3 linked regions of the Homo sapiens genome follow. The protein of the gene in region 1 purifies or fractionates together with the protein of each later gene. This does not show direct contact. Each region holds a gene or a part of one and is shown in the gene's direction. Other genes may lie near its edges. The genes, in order: RELL1, STK39 and SNX18.

What was found.
Region 2: the proteins of RELL1 (region 1) and STK39 purify together in Homo sapiens (affinity purification with mass spectrometry; 2 studies listed by BioGRID and IntAct, with this or other methods). This does not show direct contact.
Region 3: the proteins of RELL1 (region 1) and SNX18 purify together in Homo sapiens (affinity purification with mass spectrometry; 2 studies listed by BioGRID and IntAct, with this or other methods). This does not show direct contact.

What each region holds. Positions count from the first base shown.
Region 1 is NC_000004.12:37,651,639-37,655,391, reverse strand, and holds part of RELL1 (RELT-like protein 1 precursor), read left to right. Parts: intron 1-3,753. UniProt on the Homo sapiens protein: Induces activation of MAPK14/p38 cascade, when overexpressed. Induces apoptosis, when overexpressed.
Region 2 is NC_000002.12:168,163,855-168,167,607, reverse strand, and holds part of STK39 (STE20/SPS1-related proline-alanine-rich protein kinase), read left to right. Parts: intron 1-200; coding exon 201-309; intron 310-3,727; coding exon 3,728-3,753. UniProt on the Homo sapiens protein: Effector serine/threonine-protein kinase component of the WNK-SPAK/OSR1 kinase cascade, which is involved in various processes, such as ion transport, response to hypertonic stress and blood pressure.
Region 3 is NC_000005.10:54,520,656-54,524,408, forward strand, and holds part of SNX18 (sorting nexin-18), read left to right. Parts: exon of another isoform or gene 1-391; intron 392-3,753.

The sequences.
Region 1 (3,753 bases):
TTAACTAGATGACCTATGTAAAGATCCTATCTCCAAATACATTCTGAGGTATTGGGGGTTAGGAGCTCAACATATAAATTTAGGAGGGGGTGACAAAATTCAAACCATAACACCAAGCAAACTTGCTTTTTATATATATATATATATATTTCCCATCACAATGAATGGGTCCAATGTCCACTATGTTGCTCAAGCAGAAACTTGGACGTCATTTTTATTACATCACTTGCCCTTACATTAATTTGGGTTCAAGAAGTCACAGAACCGGGAGGCAAAATTTTGAAATAGGAATCCTAGCATCCATCAGACCTCACAAAGGGGTTTGTGACTCTCAAATGACTAACAGCCTCTGCTCTACATACTTTTTAAAGTGTCTACCATCTTGGTACAAAAGTACCACATACTAATTTTAGAAAGTTATAGAAAAGTATAAAGATAAAATTAAATTTATTTCATTATTTTAGTACCGAGAATCACTTAGCATTTTGGTTTTGGCTTTATACCTTCATGCGTTTTTATTTTTTAAAAAAACTAGTTGGATCATATTGCATGTAAGGTTTTGAATCCAGCTTTTGAAATTCAATATTGGATCATAGTGTTTTCCTGTATCTTCACAAAAAATTTCATAGATCTTTAAATAGTGCATATTATTTCATCAAATGAAACCATGATTTAGATATGTTTTTACTATCTCATTGCAAATATGCAGGTGTTGCTATTTTTTGACTTTTATAAATAATGCAACAACCTTTGCTATTTGGACTAAGTAACTTGTTCGTGATTCAGACATGATTCAGCTAGGGGTGAAGGAGAAGAAGGGATACAGTGTTTCTCAGCAAATTATTAGTGTAAATTGAAGGAAAGCTAAACCTACTGAAGTTTATAAATGTTTTAGACATTATGTATGAACAGTTACTTTGTTATTTAAAAGCTATTTTTCATTGAATTGTTAAGGTAGATCACAATATATTCTCCACTCTGCATCTTTCTTGTTAGCTATTCTTTATAATGCACAACAGGGCTGTCCAAAAAAACTTTCTGGGATGGTGGAAATGTTCATTATCTGGGCCGTCCAGTATGGTAGCAGTTAGCCACACATGGCCACTGGGCACTTGAGATGTGGCTAATGCAACTGAGGAACTGAATTTTTAATTTTATTTAAATTCATTTGGCTTAAATTTGAATTTAAATAGCTACATGTGGCTAGTGGCTATCTTACTGAATAATGCAGGTCTTTTATGATTATGACTAAAATACAGTGCCCACCTTTTTGTAGACACTCTTCTGAATGCTTTACATATTAATATTGTTTAATCTTCACAGTGACACCATGCAGCAGGCTTCCAGTTACTATTGCTGTATGACAAATAACCCCAAAGCTTAGTGGGTGAAAACAACAATCATTTCTTTTGTTTAAGGATTTGTTATACAATTTGGGCAGGGTTCATCAGAGACAGCTCTGATGCCCCATGGAGCATCAGTTGGGACTATAGGATCTACTTTTATTATGGCTATTACTGGCTGATAAGTTGATGCCTGCTATTTTCTCTCCACAGGGAAGCTTAGGCTTCCTCACAGCATGGTGGCTGGGTTCCAAGAGCAAGTGCCCCAAGAAACAGGAAGTGGAAGTTGTCAGTTTCTTATTGCCTGAGGCTGGAAAGTGATAATGCATCATTCCCAACACATTCTGTGGGTCAGGGAGAGTAGAGTGTAAATGTAAGGGGACGAGATACAGACCTCACCTCTCAGTAGAAGCAGTATCAAATAATTTTGAAGCTGGAAACCAAAAAGTATCTGAGACGGGTCTCAGTCAATTTAGAAGTTTATTTTGCAAAGGTTAAGGACATGTCCAGAGAAAAGGATCTCAAATCCACAGGAACAATCTGTGGTTCATGCCATTTTCCTAAGAAGATTTTGAGGGTTTCAATACTCAATACTTGTATTGAGTATTCAATACTTGTATTGAATATTGAGGTTTCAATACTTGTATTGAATATTGAGGTTTCAATACTTGTATTGAATATTGAGGTTTCAATACTTGTATTGAGGTTTCAATACTTGTATTGAGGTTTCAATACAAGGGGAAAGAGGGAGCAGATGTTCACATTACTGAATCTACCTGTTGCAAGGGAAAAGGAGCGGGCAGGGTAATAGTCAATTATGTCAGTCAGTCAGCACTTTACCTAAGATAAGGTGAGCATGGAGTAGCTACCTGTGCAGATACTTCACCTTTTATCAGTAGCTATCTGCCTAAGAACAAAAGGAAACGCAATTTCTTGAATGACTCAGCTTTCAGTTTAATTTTTTCCTTTTGGCATAGTAAATTGGGGTCTGAGATTAGATTTTTATTTCCCAGGGCCATCTTGTAAAATTATCACAGATTAGTCACACTCATTTTGATCCTTTTAACAGAGAGGAAACAGAGTACAGAACAGTTAAAATTACTCGCCTAAGGTGACATGTCTAGTATGTGGCCAATAACATGTCTGTTATTTCTGCCAGGTCTGAGCTTTTAATCTGAGTGCTATATTGCCTCTCCCTGTAATTTATATGCTTCACTAATGTAGATTAATATCTTCAGTTTTTTCATGGCACGATAATTATGAAATTAAGTGAATGACACATGTTTGTAAGTCACAGAGCTCTGTAGATATTTAGTGTTTGTTAGGGGTTGCCACATGTCAAATTCACGATGAAGACACCTTCTCAATCACCTGATTCAGAGGGAGGTGTTTGACTCCAATTCTGAGCCCCTCTTTCATCCCTCTTTCCCATTGTCCCCCTAAAAAAGAATTTATTTTCACCCCCAGATTGAAACAGACAGTGATTCTGAGTAAAGCTCCTTGATCTCAGCATGCTGCCTACTTCACCTATTCTTGTTGCGTGGAATATGTGTTATATAAAGGAATTAATAAAGAAAACATTGTTTTAGGACCATAAAAGGGATTAAATAAATGTTTCTGGTTTTTCCTGAAAATAAGGCATGAGGTTAAACCCTAACTTAGACGGTATATTGCATATATTTAGGGATGTATTTATTATATTGATTCTTCAGGGAGAAATCAGAAAACACTGGCTATTTCAAATTCTGGAGGTTGTCTGATAAAGTAATGAATGCAACCTCTTACAAACCTAAGAAACCAATTATTTCCTTTCATGTTCAAAGACAATGGATATTTCCATGCGAAAGAGAGGTAGTCTTTGTTCTATGGCCTCTGGTTTGCAAATAAAGCTTCTGTTTGATATTGTTTGTTTGCTGCTGTGATGAACCGTGCTCATTTCATACCAGGCATATTGTCCCCATTATAATCATTATGATGCAGGAGTTTTCTTCTCGGTCACTTTGTAAACTGGGGACCTCCTGGCTGGCGACGCTCTGCCCCAGCCTCGACGCCCTGCTTGGCCACGCTGGCGTGCTTCAGCTCCCCTGTGGTATAGCTTGTACCCACTTTCAGCAGTTCCCAAGCTCTTGTAGCGCACCCAAGAAGAATGAGGATACACGACACACTGAAGGGTGAGGAGGGCGGAGAAGAATTTTATTGAGCTATGAAAATGGCTTTCAGCAGAGAGGCAATGTGGGGCTCGGGGGAATGGTTCTACTTGAAGTTCCTCCTGTGTGGCTGGGTCTGGGGCCTTTTATGGACTCAGAATGGGGAGTGAGTGCTGATTGGTTTGTGAGGAAAGCGCACCAAACAGGAAGACAAGTCCTCCATCTGGTCCGAGGATTTAACTTGTAGCTTGGCTTTCAAGCTT
Region 2 (3,753 bases), on another chromosome or scaffold:
TAGAGAACTTTCTAATCTGAGTTGATAATGTGGGTGAGAGAATTGGTCCTTATATACCTTCTTTGAAGTAATGGCTTAGGCAGCCCCTCAGGTAGGCTTTCGAGTAGGAAAGTTACCCAGGTACTCAACTGTGATTCACTTGTGTTTTGCTTGCCAATTTTCACCCCATGGTACTATGTCATGTTTTGCTCTTTTTATAGAAAGAAATTCAAGCCATGAGTCAGTGCAGCCATCCCAACGTAGTGACCTATTACACCTCTTTTGTGGTCAAAGATGAACTTTGGCTGGTCATGAAATTACTAAGTGGAGGTAAGTGGATTTTGTTGTTGTTATTTATTTGCTTGTTTTCTCTCCTTTTGTTGGAACCAGCATATTGGAGAAGACTTTAGATTGAATCCTTTCTCTCCTGTGTTTGAAAGTTTGTTTGGTTTCTCATTGCCTAGAGGATAACGTCCAGATTGCTTCACATTGACCTTCAAAGCTTTTCATAATTTTGCTTAACTTCCGAGAATGTGTATGTCCTCTTCTCCAGGTATGAAATGCCCGACCTTCTAGGCTGAGAGGCAGCCCCCGGAATGTATTATGTGCTCTCATGCCTTTGCCCCTGACCTGTCCTCTTTCTCAGCCTTGCATCTCTCCTTTGTTTTCCATGTGCTCAGGCCTAAAAGGTCACATCCTCTCCACAGTCACCGCTTACTCTTCAAAAAAGTTAGCCAGTCCTTTCTCCTTGAGTCCTTTCTTTTTAACATTGTTCAGGTCCTTAACACATTGCAGTTTGCTGAATTATCTCAGTGCCATTTATCAGAATGTTCTGTGATGATGGAAATGTTCTGAGGTGCTGCTATCTACTTTTTACTAATCCCATGTGACTCTTAAGCACTTGACATGTGGCTAGTGTGACTGAGGGACTGAGTATTCAATTTTAATTAACTTACATTTAAATCACCTTGTATGGCTCCAGTATTGGACAGTGCATATTTAGGTTGTGGACTTTGTGAAGATTGTCTAATGCACTTTGAATTCATTGAACTTGGCGCCCAGTAGGTGCTCACTAAATGTGGTTTCAGTTGACATGGGGAGAAATGTGTGCTACATATTCACTTGCAGTGTTGATCAGAAATGGCACTATTGTCATCCTATTGTTGCATTTGGGAAGGGAAAGTCACTTCCTCTCTCTAGCTTCAGATCCCTGCAGTGATGCAAGCCATTGACAATTTAATTTACAAGGTGCTTTCACATCCTGTATTTTATTTCTTTTAATCTTCTAACATCACTATCAGAGAGGGAATGATAATGATAACCGTTGCCTTTTTTGAACACTTACTCTGTGGCTAGATCCTGTCCAAGGCAATTTACTGACCTTATCCCATTTAATCTTCACAGTGTCCCTGAATGGCCTGTGTCACCATCCCTGTTTTTCAGAAATTACACCAAATTTCAAGGGAGTTTAGCAACTTGCCCAAGGTCACACACATAGTAAATGTTGGTGCTGGAATTTGTGACTTTAACATCTGTTGACTTAAAAATTTGTATGCTGTGCTGCAAGTATTTACACCTTCGTTTTGCAGACATGGGCACTGAAGCTTAGAAAGCCCAAGTGATTTCCTTGGGAACACCCAGCATACCCACATCTCTGGTGTGTTCTCTTTCGAGGGCTTGATTCTCTGGGTATCTTTCTGAGACATGAAGTATGGTTTAGGATCAGAGGAGAACATTTTGCTGTGCCTGGACAACCCAAAACTAGCATAGCAGAATTTATATGATAGAGCCTATTTTAATCTGCAGATGTCGAGGGAGGTGTTTTAATGTTTTCCTTTTTTAAAAAGGAAACTCTCTTGGATCAAGCAGAAGCCCAAAAATGAGATGACGAAGGCATTGTAATTGGCTTGGGTCTGCTTGTGTAGGTCTCGGTGGGGAGCCCTGGGGAGCTTAGTTCTGTTCTGTTTTCAGTCTTCCTCAGTCTTATTAGTCATTGTTTCCTTGAGTGCCTACTTCAGTTTTTAATTAAAAAGAAAAAAAGAAAAAGGAAAAGAAAAAGGAAGCCTGCCAGAGCTGGACTGCAGTATTGAGTGCTGGGACTGCCCCTTTATTCAGCAGAGGAACTTGCGCTTTGCCAACAAGATGATCTTAAGGCATTCTCTTTTTGTGGGGTTCCACCAACTCTGAGGAAATGAGAAATTCTGATGACTTGAGACCCTGAATAGTCCCAAATGCTCTGCTCAAGCTGAAGATTTTACCTTTTGCTTTATGAAGCTGAGAATCTTCTGTTTTCTGAGGAGGATCTGACAGAAAATTTCTTTGTCTTTTTGAGTCCAATTTAGCCTCTCTGGGCTTTAGGTAAGAACAGATTTTAAACAGGTTTCCACAGGTAAGGACGTGGGCAGACGTGGACTCTTGTTCATTTTTCTTTTAGCAGGACAGAAATGCATGCATGCCTGGTATGGTATATCCTTATACAATAAAAAGAAAATGTTTTTGGAATTATCATTTTTTAAATGACACAAAAATCTAAGAGTCAACAAATAAACAGAGGTTTTTTTTTCCTCTGGGGAAAAATATGCATTTGTTTTCTTCTATTTCATTACATTGAATCTCTTAATGAGGGGCAGGCAGCTGTATCTGATGGGGAAGCTCAATCCTCTTAGTTAATTATAAAGAGCCTAGAGCCAAATTCAGGTCCTGAGGTAAGCCGTTTGTTAACTCTTCAGAAATGTCAAACCCCCAGGTAATTTTGGCTTTTAAACTGACCCAGGGGTTTGGAATACTAATTAATATGTGTTGAAACATGAATTCACAGTGCCAAGGATACTAATCTGTATATGGTAACAAAGTACTAGGTATCTGTTTGTTTATTGTAAGTGTTAGTGCCTCAAATATATCAGGTAAATGAAATAAAGATCAGCCAGGCTCAGTGGCTTATGCCTATAAGCCCAGCACTTTGGGAGGCCAAAGGTGGGCAGATCACTTAAGCCCAGAAGTTCAAGACCGGCATGGGCAACGTGGTAAGACCCCATCTCTACAAAAAATACAAAAATTAGCCAGGCGTGGTGGCACGTACTTGTAGTCCCAGCTACTTGGGAGGCTGAGGTGGGAGGATCGCTTGAGCCTGGGAAGTTGAGGCTGCAGTGAGCTGTGATTGCTCCACTGCACTCCAGCTTATATGACAGAGGCAGACTCTGTCTCAAATAAAAAAAGAAAAAGAAGGAAAGAAAATAAAGATCAGGTAGTGTCACAGGAAGGAATCTTCCGGTTATAAGCAGAGGTCTAGAAACAACATACTTCTTTCCCCCTCCCACCTGTGATTTAGGTCCTCAAAGAGTGTGTTTTTTTTCTCTCAGCAGTTCACTTCTGCCTTTTCTCCTGGCCTCATACTCCTTTCTTTGTCAGTTCAGACTTTTTGCACCCTCTTTGGAGGGTTGCTCTTAGGAATTTTTGTGAGAAATACTGTAACCAGAAAAGGAACCAGCCATGGAACGGCCATGAACAGCCTTCTGGTCCCTGACCCAGAATCCTTCTCGTTAAATTCACACTGAAAGTGCTCTTGCAAACTTGGATTTAGTGTTTTTGGTCATGGGGCCCCCATTCAATTGTTTGTTTGCCTTGGGAATATTTGCATTAAATAAAGCCCATATTTTGATGTTTCTATTAAATTTTATACATAATGGAGTCTTGTTCTGAAAAGGTGATGAAGGTGCTTATGTTTTAATTCTTCTGTTTGTCTACTTAGGTTCAATGTTGGATATCATAAAATAC
Region 3 (3,753 bases), on another chromosome or scaffold:
ATTGAACTGAAGTTTGCCTCCCTTGATTGTCTTTCTGTTCCCTGGGACCGCCTTCAGACATTTGGAGACAGCAGTCTCGCTTCCTTCCTCTCTGCTTCTCTCCTTCCCCTTCCAAATGCGTGACTGGTCTTCTGACTCCTATGGGGGAAGGGGCTTGCTGGGAGAATGATCAAACGTTTTCAGTCTTGTTGCTGCCGCTGAAAGGGAGTACCCTGGACATCAGTACTAATTTTAGTAGACAGTAGTAACTTTCTTGGCAATTTGCGATTTGTAAATGCAGTCTAATATTGAATTCGTTTTTTGTGCAATCATATTGCTGTTGGCCTGTATTAAACCTGTATTTACATTACCTATGCCTTTTTTTAAAACATAAATTGTTATGAATCTTTGACTTTTTTGACTGGTGTTGGTGGAACTGCCTTTGTGAGCCTTTAATGGAGGGATTTAGCATTTAAATTCCATTGTGTTACATCATTCTGGACCTATGCTGGCTGCCCTTTTACACATTTCTGTGAGTTTGTGCAAATTACTGGTGAACAGTTGAAAGGATGGAACCAAGTACAGACACTTGGACATGTGTGCTGGGCCGCTGGTGTCTGTCTACTTTAGGTTGGCATCAGTTCATTCACTGTCAATCACACCATGCACTCAGGCTTTGTCAAATGGCCTGCTTTTGAAATTATATATTAGAAAAGGTATGGTGTGTGTTCTAATATCTATTTTGAGTTTACAGCAATGGTCTACTTAGTCTATTAAACCATCTGGTTATGGCCAGGGTCACGCCTGTAATCCCAGCATTTTGGGAGGTCGAGGCAGGAGGATTGCCTTAAGGCCAGGAGTTCGAGACCAGCCTGGGCAACATAGGGAGACTCCCTTGTCTACAAAAAATAAAGAAGTTAGCGTGGCATGGTGGCTCATACCTATAGTCCTAGCTACTAGGGAGGCTGAGGCTGGAGGATTGCTTGAGGCTAGGAGTTAATTTGAGGTTGCAGTGAGGCATAATTGAACCATTGCCCTCCAGCTTGGGTGACAGAGCAAGACCCTGTGTCCAAAACAAAAAATATATAGCTTATTTACTTCTTTATTTATTTTGTAGAGACAGGTGTCTTGCTATGTTGCCCAGGCTTGTCTCTAACTCTTGGGCTCAAGCAATCCTTCCAGCTCAGCCTCCCGAAGTGCTGGGATTACAAGCGTGAACCACCATGCCCGGCCTAGTTTATCTTTTTTAAATTATAGAACTGGATTTGTCTCTAGTCACTTGGGATTTGAAAAACTTCCTTCATTAAAACCAGTATCATTTTATGTGGCTTAACAGATTCAAGAGCACTAAACATAATCTCTAGGAACTTTGGAAAGAACAGCAGTTGATATTCAGTATAGTTTGTTTCTGCTGTAACCTTGGTGTGTAATGTACAGTGAACCTGTGTCCCTGGATGACACATCTTTAGAAAATACTACCATTTAAAGTGACAGTGTGCGATACATAAGGCTAAAAGCATTTGCCTATAACCAGTGTTTATCAAGGATGCTAGTGTAGGCCATTTTTAGGAGTATAGATGAGACAAACATCATAAGCCAGGATAAAAGCTTTCTGAGCGTATTCAGGACTTGTGGTTGTAAAGAGCATCTCAATTCCGTCACCTCCCCAACCCCAACTGTTACACACTTGAAATATGGCTAATGTGACTAAGGAACTGAATATTGGTCAACAGAAATGATAGAACTTTTCCATCAGTGCTGAAAGTTCTATTGGACAGTGCTGTGTTAAACTGCTGGCTGCAGTTTAACTATCAACCCCATCGTAAGTTTCTCCAGCAAATTATTATATTTTAATATAGTTTCCTGATAGCTTTATTTTTACTTGGTCATCTCATTGCACCTCCTCCTTCCCATATAGGCTTAATTAATAAAAACTGGGAAGGGGGAAGCAAGTCCTGCTAGATTCTTCTTTGCTGAATTTCCCAAGCACTCAACCTGAGTGACATTTCAGTAGCGTGAGCATCTCTTGCAGTGTGCCTTTATGTCCCATTCAGAAAACACATTGGTTACGGGATGGATGTCTGAGGCCATCCTGGTGAGAACCCAGCTGCAAAATGAGGGTGGAAAACTCAAATACTCTTAAATGTTGGTGGGCTGAAATTTTCCTGACTATACTAAATACTGAACCCATTCTTTAAACTAATAATGGTTTTAGTGTACATACTTTCTGCAGAAGTGAAGAAAGCGATATACTTCCTTCAGCCAAAAGAGAATTCTGGAATTTTGATTTTTTTTCATCAACGGATGGAGTCTAACTATTTAGGTTAATGGAGTTGAGCGAAGAAAGACGGTAGTTTGCTGTAGTCTGCGGTACATTAGATGGGAATTCAGAATCTATTGGAATTTTATTTGTGTTTTGCTTTGACCTAATAGGAGTCCTTTAAGTTCTTTGTTCATAGGTAGCTCATCAATCCCTGACTAGGCAGTGTGCAGATGTTTGTCACTGACATGTAACCCCTGTGGTCTTGATTTTTTTTTTCTTAAGTGATAGCATTTTATCTTCTCCCTCCTTATCATGCCTGTCTGCAGTATACCTTTATAGTGTTGATGTTGAGGAGTTTGGGTAGTACTGAGGAATATATTTTATTATTAGTTTCTTGGCATATTCAGTTTTGTTTCCAAAGATATGATCAATCTCTAATATTTAATAAAGCTAAATCTAGGTGGCAGCAAGTTGAGGTTTAAAAGATTTAGGTTTACCTCTTGCGACTATTGCTAAAAGGAAGACTGTAAAAGATTATGAGAAATACTGGTTTCATCCTTGTTTAGGAATTTGGACTAAATAAAAATGGCTAGAGGGAGTTCCTTTAAGTGAAATGTCTTTCTTCTAGAGAAAAGGTGTAAAATAGTGTTAAATTGATTTGTCGATTTGGGCTGTGTGAAGCAGGGAGGCAGGACTAGATAAGTAAATAGGCAGTCCTGTTTTCTGTACTCTTAAATATACAGACTCTACTTCATCGCTCTCTAAATGTTCCAGATGGAGCCTTTTTTCAATAAAAGCCCCAGGACCTCAGGAATGGTATACCAGTAGTGGGCCTGTCAGTCTTGCTGGGTAGAATTTCACCATTGTGCTTCCTTTTACCACTAGTAGAGTTGGCCTGATGTCCTTCAGACATTAATTAAAGATAGCTGGAGTCCCAGCAGGGCACACAAGGTAAGGCTGGGCCACACGGAGACCCTTCCCTGTCTGCTCCCCATTCTCCTGTAGCTAAAAATAGCCCTGAAAGGGTGGTGCCAGGAATACAGAGAAAAGCTCTAAGAAGTTGGGGCTGTTTGCAAATTCATCCTTATTTTTGAAACCTCTGGGCTAGAAATTGAGGCTGTTCATTCTTTTTGTTTTCACTCCATCTTTAGTTGAACCCATTTCTCCTCTCCCCTGCATTTACCCCCAGCTGTTCTCTAAAAAGACCTCATGTCTCTAAAAAGAGAACAGGTCTGGGGCTTACCCTTTGCCCCAGTTTGTGTTTTCTTAGTGAAAATAAGGTGACCGTTGGTGCTTTCGAAATACACGACTCAGTTCCTTGGTTAAAATATAAATGTGACTGCCCAAGGACAGTCTTGGGCACGAAACTGGGTGTGGGCACCGCTCATACCACACCGTCAGGGGTTTCTCAGACTTCTTTTTTGAGCCACATAGCCTTCAGAGTCATGCCGACCACAGTGGGACCGAAGGGAGGCAGAGGACCTGCACTCCCACCCTCCTCCCAGTAACTC